2 linked regions of the Homo sapiens genome follow. The protein of the gene in region 1 purifies or fractionates together with the protein of each later gene. This does not show direct contact. Each region holds a gene or a part of one and is shown on either strand. Other genes may lie near its edges.

Region 1 (3,814 bases):
CTCTCTTCCAGACCATGAGCTTTTGGAGGGCAGAAACCGTGTCTTACTCAACACTTATAAGGTTACTACCCAGGTAGTCCAGTCTTGGAGGGCTGTCCCTAACAAAAGATCACCATCCAAAATATCAAAAGCACTGCAGTTCTTTCTTTTTCTTGGTCAAACAACTTGAAAGGACTCCACTTCTTAAAGTGCCCCTTGACTGTCTCATCCCCTTGTGAACTTACACTTTACAGTTGCTCCTTCACCTCCATCTTCAAAACTGTCCTGAAAAATGCCTTCCCTCTAAAGTCAGCCTCCTGTCCTCACTTTTCTCTCTTTTTTCTCTTCATTCTGGATTTCACCAGGCATAAAGAACCATATGGCAAGACTAAACCCTCCTCAGAAACAAGACAAAAGAGCTAAACAGGTCAAGAGAGAACCCTCTTTAGCAGGAACAGGAACCAAGTAAATTTTGCCTGCACTACCCAGCCTGCAAAAGTATCAGTGAGTGAGAGAATTCTGTGAGGTAGTGTTATTAGCCTAAATTTTTAAGCAGAGAAACTGAGGCTCAGAAAGAATCACCAATTTTCCCAAGGTGACACAGGGAATTATAGCAGAAGTTGTCCCCCACACCTGTCCAAACTATAAACCTCAAGCTGCATCCCACCCATTAGACCATCCCAGCTCCACCTTCCTCAGCCAGGGCCTAGATACCCTCTGAGGATGGGTCTTGGGTCCCTCTCCTGCAGGATAAAAGCTGGAGCCAGGAGTCATGCCTGCAGGGGGGCAGTGCCTATGTCATCGTATACTCCATCGCAGACCGAGGCAGCTTTGAGAGTGCCTCTGAGCTCCGCATCCAGCTGCGGCGCACACATCAGGCAGACCATGTGCCCATCATCCTCGTGGGCAACAAGGCAGACTTGGCCCGCTGCCGAGAAGTCTCTGTGGAAGGTGAGCCCTCCATCCCACCACCTCCTCTTCACCTGGGCCCCACTGTCATGGCTGCTCCTCCAGCGCTCTTCATCTCAGTGACTGTCCCTGCCAAGCTGCCCCTACCCTGCAGCCACTTGCCTAAGCCTGCAAGCTGGGAACCATTCTTGCCTCCCACTCATCACCCCCAAACCAGTCCCCAGATCCTGTCAGGCCACCTCCATTAATTCCACATTCCCTTCCCTCTCTGCCTACAGTCTCTGTGCTATCCTGGCATCTCCACCTTCGCCAGTCCTCCTGCTTCTCAATTATTCCTCCTTGCCACCTGCCAGAATTTTCCAAGACCAGAGTTGAATTTGCACTTCTTAAAAATTCCTGTATGTGGTGGGGCATGGTGGCTCACAACTATAATCCTAGCACTTTGGGAGGCCAAGGTGGGAGGACTTGCTTGAGCCCAGGAGTTTGAGACCAGCTTTGGCAACACAGCAAGACCTTCTCTCTACAAAAAAAATTAAAAATAATTTTAGCTCTTTTTTTAAAAAAAAATTCTGGCCAGGCCCAGTGGCTCACGCCTGTAATCCCAGCACTTTGGAAGACTGAGGCAAGTGGATCACTTGAGATCAGGAGTTCAAGACCAACCTGGCCAACATGGTGAAACCCCATCTCTACTAAAAATATAAAAATTAGCCAGGCATGGTGGTGCACACCAGTAATCCCAGCTACTTGGGCAGCTGATGCATGAGAATCACTTAAACCCAGGAGGCAGAGGTTGCAGTGAGCCAAGACCACGCCACTGCACTCCAGCCTGGGTGACAGAATGAGACTCTGTCTCAAAAAAATAATAATTTCCTCTATGGCTCCCCTAGCCCCTTAATCAGAGACACTTTATCCACCAGGATGATAGGCCCAGTGCCTACAGGCTTTTCAAGGGCTTACATTTGAGAACTGAAAAGAACCATTATTGGCTCCAAAATACAGTGAAAAAAATTAGAAATTCAAATTTCTCAAAGCTTTAATTGTCTGCAAAACATATTTTGTCAACCAGTAACTACAAACCAAAATTTTAAACGTCATATATGGCTTGTATTTACAATGGGATGGGGACTATTTTAATAAGTTTGACATATCAGATAGGGCCCATAACAATTTTTCAATGGTCTTACTCACAGAGTAAAATCTAAAAAAATGTGTAAACTGAGACCCAGAAAGGAAAAAGCTAGTTTCACAGTCACCAGCCCCTGAGGACTAGAACTCGGGCTCAGTGGCTCCTGGAGGTGGAAGACCCTATGCTTTGTGAACAGACATCCAAAAAAAAAAAAAAAAAAAACTGCAACATAAGCCCCAGGAGATTTTGTTAAAGCACAGATTTCCAGACCTCAACCCAAACCTACAGAATCAGAAACTCTGAGGGTGGGTCCAGGAATCTGCATTTAAACAAGCTCCTCCAGGTAATTCCGATCCACAGCAAATTAGACCCTTTACCTGGCATTCAATAATCTGACCCCTCCCTGACCCCAGCCTCTCTGTCTTCCCTCAAAGACCAGTCTGATTTATCTGAGTCCCCAGACAGCAGCACCAGGCATGAGCACAGGAAAAATTGCTTCCAATCGAGACTAAACACATCTCTTCCTACCTTTTTCTCCGCCTTCCGTTATGGCTCCACCCCTCCTCGCCGGGCCCCGCCCCCTTAGAGGGCCGCGCCTGCGCTGTGGTGTTCGACTGTAAATTCATCGAGACATCCGCCACGCTGCAGCACAATGTGGCCGAGCTCTTCGAGGGCGTGGTGCGCCAACTGCGCTTGCGCCGCCGGGACAGTGCGGCCAAGGAACCCCCAGCACCCCGACGGCCGGCCAGCCTAGCCCAGCGCGCTCGTCGCTTCCTGGCACGCCTGACAGCCCGCAGCGCACGCCGCCGGGCACTCAAGGCCCGCTCCAAGTCCTGCCACAATCTGGCCGTGCTCTGAAGCCCCCCGCCCTTCTGAGAGTTGGCGGGTCACTGAGGTGCATTCTGGGCTCCAGGGACGCCACTGCGGGGCAAAGGCGCCGTTACCTGGAGTCTGCATCATGGGTCTTGCTTGCCTGCTGCCCTGATGGCCTGAGCATCCCCCAGATCCAAGCCTGGGGGATCCCGGGAAAGCGATGGACAGACAGACGATGGGGCCGAAGCCCCAAGCTGGGCACAAAGTAGTTTTTTACGTGGTGGGTGTCTTTTTGTAAAAAAATCTTCCTTGTCCCTGGGCTCTGGCCAACCCTCAGAAACCCTCACAATAAACCAGACCAGAAGGATGTCCCATCTGAATGCCCAGACCTCTCCATCTCGGCTCTTCCAGGCGTCTCCACCTACTGCCCTCCCATCTACACTTGACTGTAGACTGGTCTGGCCTGCTGGCCTGGGCGTCAGGGCGCATCAATAAAGTACTTGGACCAGTTTTGTGCTCAGGCCCTTCTCTCAACAGTGGATCACAACCACAGTTCCGTGACCAGCTACTTTCTCATTAACCCATGTTTTACGTTCTAGATTCACATGTCTGGAAGGACCTCAGTACTCATCCTGGCAATAGAATTGCTGGCGTTTGTTGGGAGCTGTGTACTAAGCTGTCACAACAATTATTCCTCCCAACACCTGGGAGAAGGGTTTCCGATTAACCCCATTTTGCTCGTTAGTAAACTGAGGCAGAGGACACCGAAGGCTCACCCAAGATCATACAGCTGCTATACGCGAAGTTGCCGGGATTCCAGCCCAGGCTTGTCAGACTCTAGTGACCAACATATCCATTGTCCACTTTAAACATGATACAAAACCCTATAGAATCTTGGCAAAACGAATTTAAAAACATAATTTCGCATCCAATTTAAAGGAGGTTGGGGCAGGAGCTCTATGAAACTCAATGCATTAATCCCCGGGA
Region 2 (3,814 bases), on another chromosome or scaffold:
ACTCCTTTACCATGTCCACTTGTGTTTCTGCCTTACCAGCTCACGGATGATTGATATCCAGACCAGGATGGCTGGGCGAGCATTGGAGCTTCTTTATCTGCCAGAGAATAAGCCCTGTTACCTGCTGGATATTGGGTGAGATTCTGGGGCCTGGTTCAGATTGTCTAAGGTGGTGAAGTGTCTTTGTAAACTGACCCTGAGTGTCTGGTCATGTCTTCCAGCTGTGGCACTGGGCTGAGTGGAAGTTATCTGTCAGATGAAGGGCACTATTGGGTGGGCCTGGATATCAGCCCTGCCATGCTGGGTAAGTATGTCCTGTCTGGCACCAGGGTGGATTACCCTGATGGGTGTGGAGAAGCCACAGGTATTTCTCTTTCTCTGACTGCCTTTTCTCTAATGTAGATGAGGCTGTGGACCGAGAGATAGAGGGAGACCTGCTGCTGGGGGATATGGGCCAGGGCATCCCATTCAAGCCAGGCACATTTGATGGTTGCATCAGGTGAGGGTCTTTAATTCCTGCTTTTATTTATTTAGAGACAGGGTCTCACTCTATCACTTAGGCTCTAGTGCAGTGTCTGTGATTATGGCTCACACTGCAGCCTCCACCTCCTGGGTTCAGGTGATCTGCCCACCTCAGTCTCCTGAGTAGCTGGGACTACAGGCCCACACCACCGTACCTAGCTAATTTTTTGTTTTTTTGAGATGGAGTCTTGCTCTGTCACCAGGCTGGAGTGCAGTGGTGTGATCTTGGCTCACTGCAGCCTTCGCCTCCCAGGCTCAAGCGATTCTCCTGCCTCAGCCTCCCAAGTAGCTGAGATTACAGGAGCACGCCACCACACCCAACTAATTTTTGTATTTTTAGTGGAGGTGAGGTTTCACTATGTTGGCCGGGATGGTTTCAATCTCTTGACCTTGTGATCCACCCTCCTCGGCCTCCCAAAGTGCTGGGATTACAGGTGTGAGCCACCGTGCACAGCCTAACTTTTTTTGTATTTGTTGTAGAGATGGGTTTTTGCTATGTTGCTCAGGCGATCCACACACCTGGGCCTCCCAAAATGCTGGGATTATAGGTGTGAGCCACCCTGGCCTCTTTCTTCCTGCTTTTAGTCCTGCAAGCCAGTGCCTCCCAAACCTGGCTGTGCAGCAGACTCATGCAGATATTTACAAATACACATCCCATGGGATTTTCAGATTTACAAGGTTAGAGCAAGGCCCAAGAGTGTATTTTTTTGGATTCTAAAACTTTGCAGTCTGGCCAACATGGTGAAACCCAGCCTCTACTAAAAAGCCAGACGTGGTTGTTGTTTTTTTTTTTTTGAGATGGAGGCTCTCTCTGTTGCCCAGGCTGGAGTGCAGTGGCGGGATCTCGGCTCACTGCAAGCTCCGCCTCCCGGGTTCAAGCCATTCACCTGCCTCAGCCTCCCAAGTACTTGGGACTGCAGGCGCCCACCACCACGCCCAGCTAATTTTTTTATATTTTTAGTAGAGACGGGGTTTCACCATGTTAGCCAGGATGGTCTCAATCTCCTGACCTCATGATCCGCCCTCTTCAGCCTCCCAAAGTGCTAGGATTACAGGCGTGAGCCACCGCGCCCAGCCTAAAAAGCTAGACATGGTGGTGGCCACCTGTAGTCCCAGCTAGCTACTCAGGAAGCTGAGGTAGGAGAATTGCTTGAACCCGAGAGGCGGAGGTTGCAGTGAGCCGAGTCCACGCCATTGCACTTCCAGCCTGGGTGACAGAGCAACACTTCATCTCAAAAATAAAACTTGTCTACTATTGCGATTATTTTGCATTGCCGGGTTCGGGCACCACTGGTACAGATTCTGTGTCAGCTTTGTGTGTCTGGTGGGGCAGAGGAGGTGGTCTTTTAGTCTCTAGCGGCCATTTTATGGGCCCCAGCCATCTTGTGGGCCCCAGCAGCCATCTTACTTTATTTGCCAACAGATAACTGGTAGAGAGCGTCTGGACTTGCTCTAATCTCTTAAGTGCTTCACAGTCCTTTCTCTGTAATCAGAGTCGGGTTAAACATCCACATAGCACTTCAATAACAGATCTTAGAATGTTAAAATTGATTAAGTTTTTCTTAGGCTGCTGTGATCAGTTCTGTTTAGTTTTTGGTGTGGTGTGGGAGTGAAAGTGAGAAAATAGGGGAGGAAGTTACAAATCATTACTTGCAGGGGAGACTTCCTTTGGTTACCCTAAGTTGAGTGGTGGGGATGTGAAGTGGGGAGCCAGGTGAGAGGTAAAAATTCAGATTAGAAGATTTTCCTTTTACATCTGGGAACAAGACCCAGGGGGGTTGGGGAATAATTTCAAGGGTAGCAGATGCTTTTTGGTAATGGTCAGATGAGGTGTTTTAAGCTGTGAAAAACCGAAGGCCAGCAGTATGGTCTGTATGTTTCGGAAGGGGATGGTCAGTTTTTGTTTGTCTTCGGGGAGAGGTGAGATGGTATAGCAAACTGTTTTTTTGGAGACGGATTCTTACTGTATTGTCCAGACTGGAGTGCAGTGGCACGATCTCGGCTCACTGCAACCTCTGCCTCCTGGGTTCAAGCGATTCTCCTGCCTTAGCCTCCTGAGTAGCTGGGATTACAGGTGCTCACCACCATGCTTGGCTAATTTTTGTATTTTAGTAGAGATGGGGTTTCACCATGTTGGCCAGGCTGGTCTTGAACTCCTGACTTCATGAACTGCCCGCCTCAACCTTCCAAAGTGTTGGGATTACAGGCGTGAGCCACCGCACCCGGCCCAGACTTTTTTTTTTTTTTTAAACATTTGCTACATGTAAGGCGTACAAGGTGCTGTGGAGTACAGGGAAATGAAACAGTTTCTGCGTGTAAGACTCTCCACGGTTTATTAGGTGCTTTAGGACATGGACCAGGCAACTGAATATAAGGGCATGAGTGGTGTGTGCCCTAGGGAGTCATGGGGCTGCCAGAGCACAGGAAAGCCTTGGGTGGAGGGGCTGCACCTTGAAGGCTGGGAGGAATTTGGATAGTCAAGGAGAGGGTTTCTGAGTGAGGGAACAGTGGGCAGAGGCACAGATGCCGGTGGGAAAGGGGTCTGAGATGAGAGGGATGAACGAGAGATTCCACGGAAGATGGGGTTGAGTGTGGTTGCTTCCTAGAAGGCACTTAAGTGTGTCCTAAGAAGTTTGGGCTTGATGGAGTAGATGATGGGGAGTTGGCAGGTGACGGGATCAGATGTGTGTTTAAGGAAGGTGATTTTCTGGTGAAAGAGGAGAGAGAGTTAGGTGGAAGCATTTGAGCTGGTAGCACTGAGCATTGGTGCGGGGAAGTGAAAGTTGGGAGAGGCTGTGGGACAAGCCAGTGGGGTGGAGGTAGGGCTCTGTGTGTGTACAGCAGGGCGGAGGGGAAGGGCAGGAAGGAAGACATAGTGACTGGTTGAGGTTTTATTTATTTATTTTTTGAGATGGAGTCTTGCTCTGTTGTCCAGGCTGGAGTACAGTGGCACAAGGCTTACTGCAACCTCTGCCTCCCAGGTTCAAGTGATTCTTCTGCCTCAGCCACCTGAGCAGCTGGTATTCAAGGCACATGCCACCAAGCCCAGCTAATTTTTGTATTTTTAGTAGAGACGGGGTTTCACCGTGTTGGTCAGGCTGGTCTCGAACTCCTGACCTCAAGTGATCCACCCATCTCAGCCTCCCAAAATGCTGGGATTACGGGTATGAGCCAATGCACCTGGCTGCTTGAGGTTTTAAATCTGGGGGTTGTAAAGACACTTAACAGGTAGAGTGGAAGGGAGTGATTTAGGAGGAAGGGTGATGGGATGGCTGTGTGTATGTGAGTAGTC

Evidence for each region.
Region 2: the proteins of REM1 (region 1) and BUD23 fractionate together in Homo sapiens (co-fractionation; one large-scale study listed by BioGRID). This does not show direct contact.

What each region holds. Positions count from the first base shown.
Region 1 is NC_000020.11:31,481,559-31,485,372, forward strand, and holds the end of REM1 (GTP-binding protein REM 1), read left to right. Parts: intron 1-728; coding exon 729-930; intron 931-2,600; coding exon 2,601-2,872; 3' UTR 2,873-3,337; downstream 3,338-3,814. UniProt on the Homo sapiens protein: Promotes endothelial cell sprouting and actin cytoskeletal reorganization. May be involved in angiogenesis. May function in Ca(2+) signaling.
Region 2 is NC_000007.14:73,686,597-73,690,410, forward strand, and holds part of BUD23 (18S rRNA (guanine-N(7))-methyltransferase), read left to right. Parts: intron 1-39; coding exon 40-135; intron 136-221; coding exon 222-304; intron 305-402; coding exon 403-499; intron 500-3,814.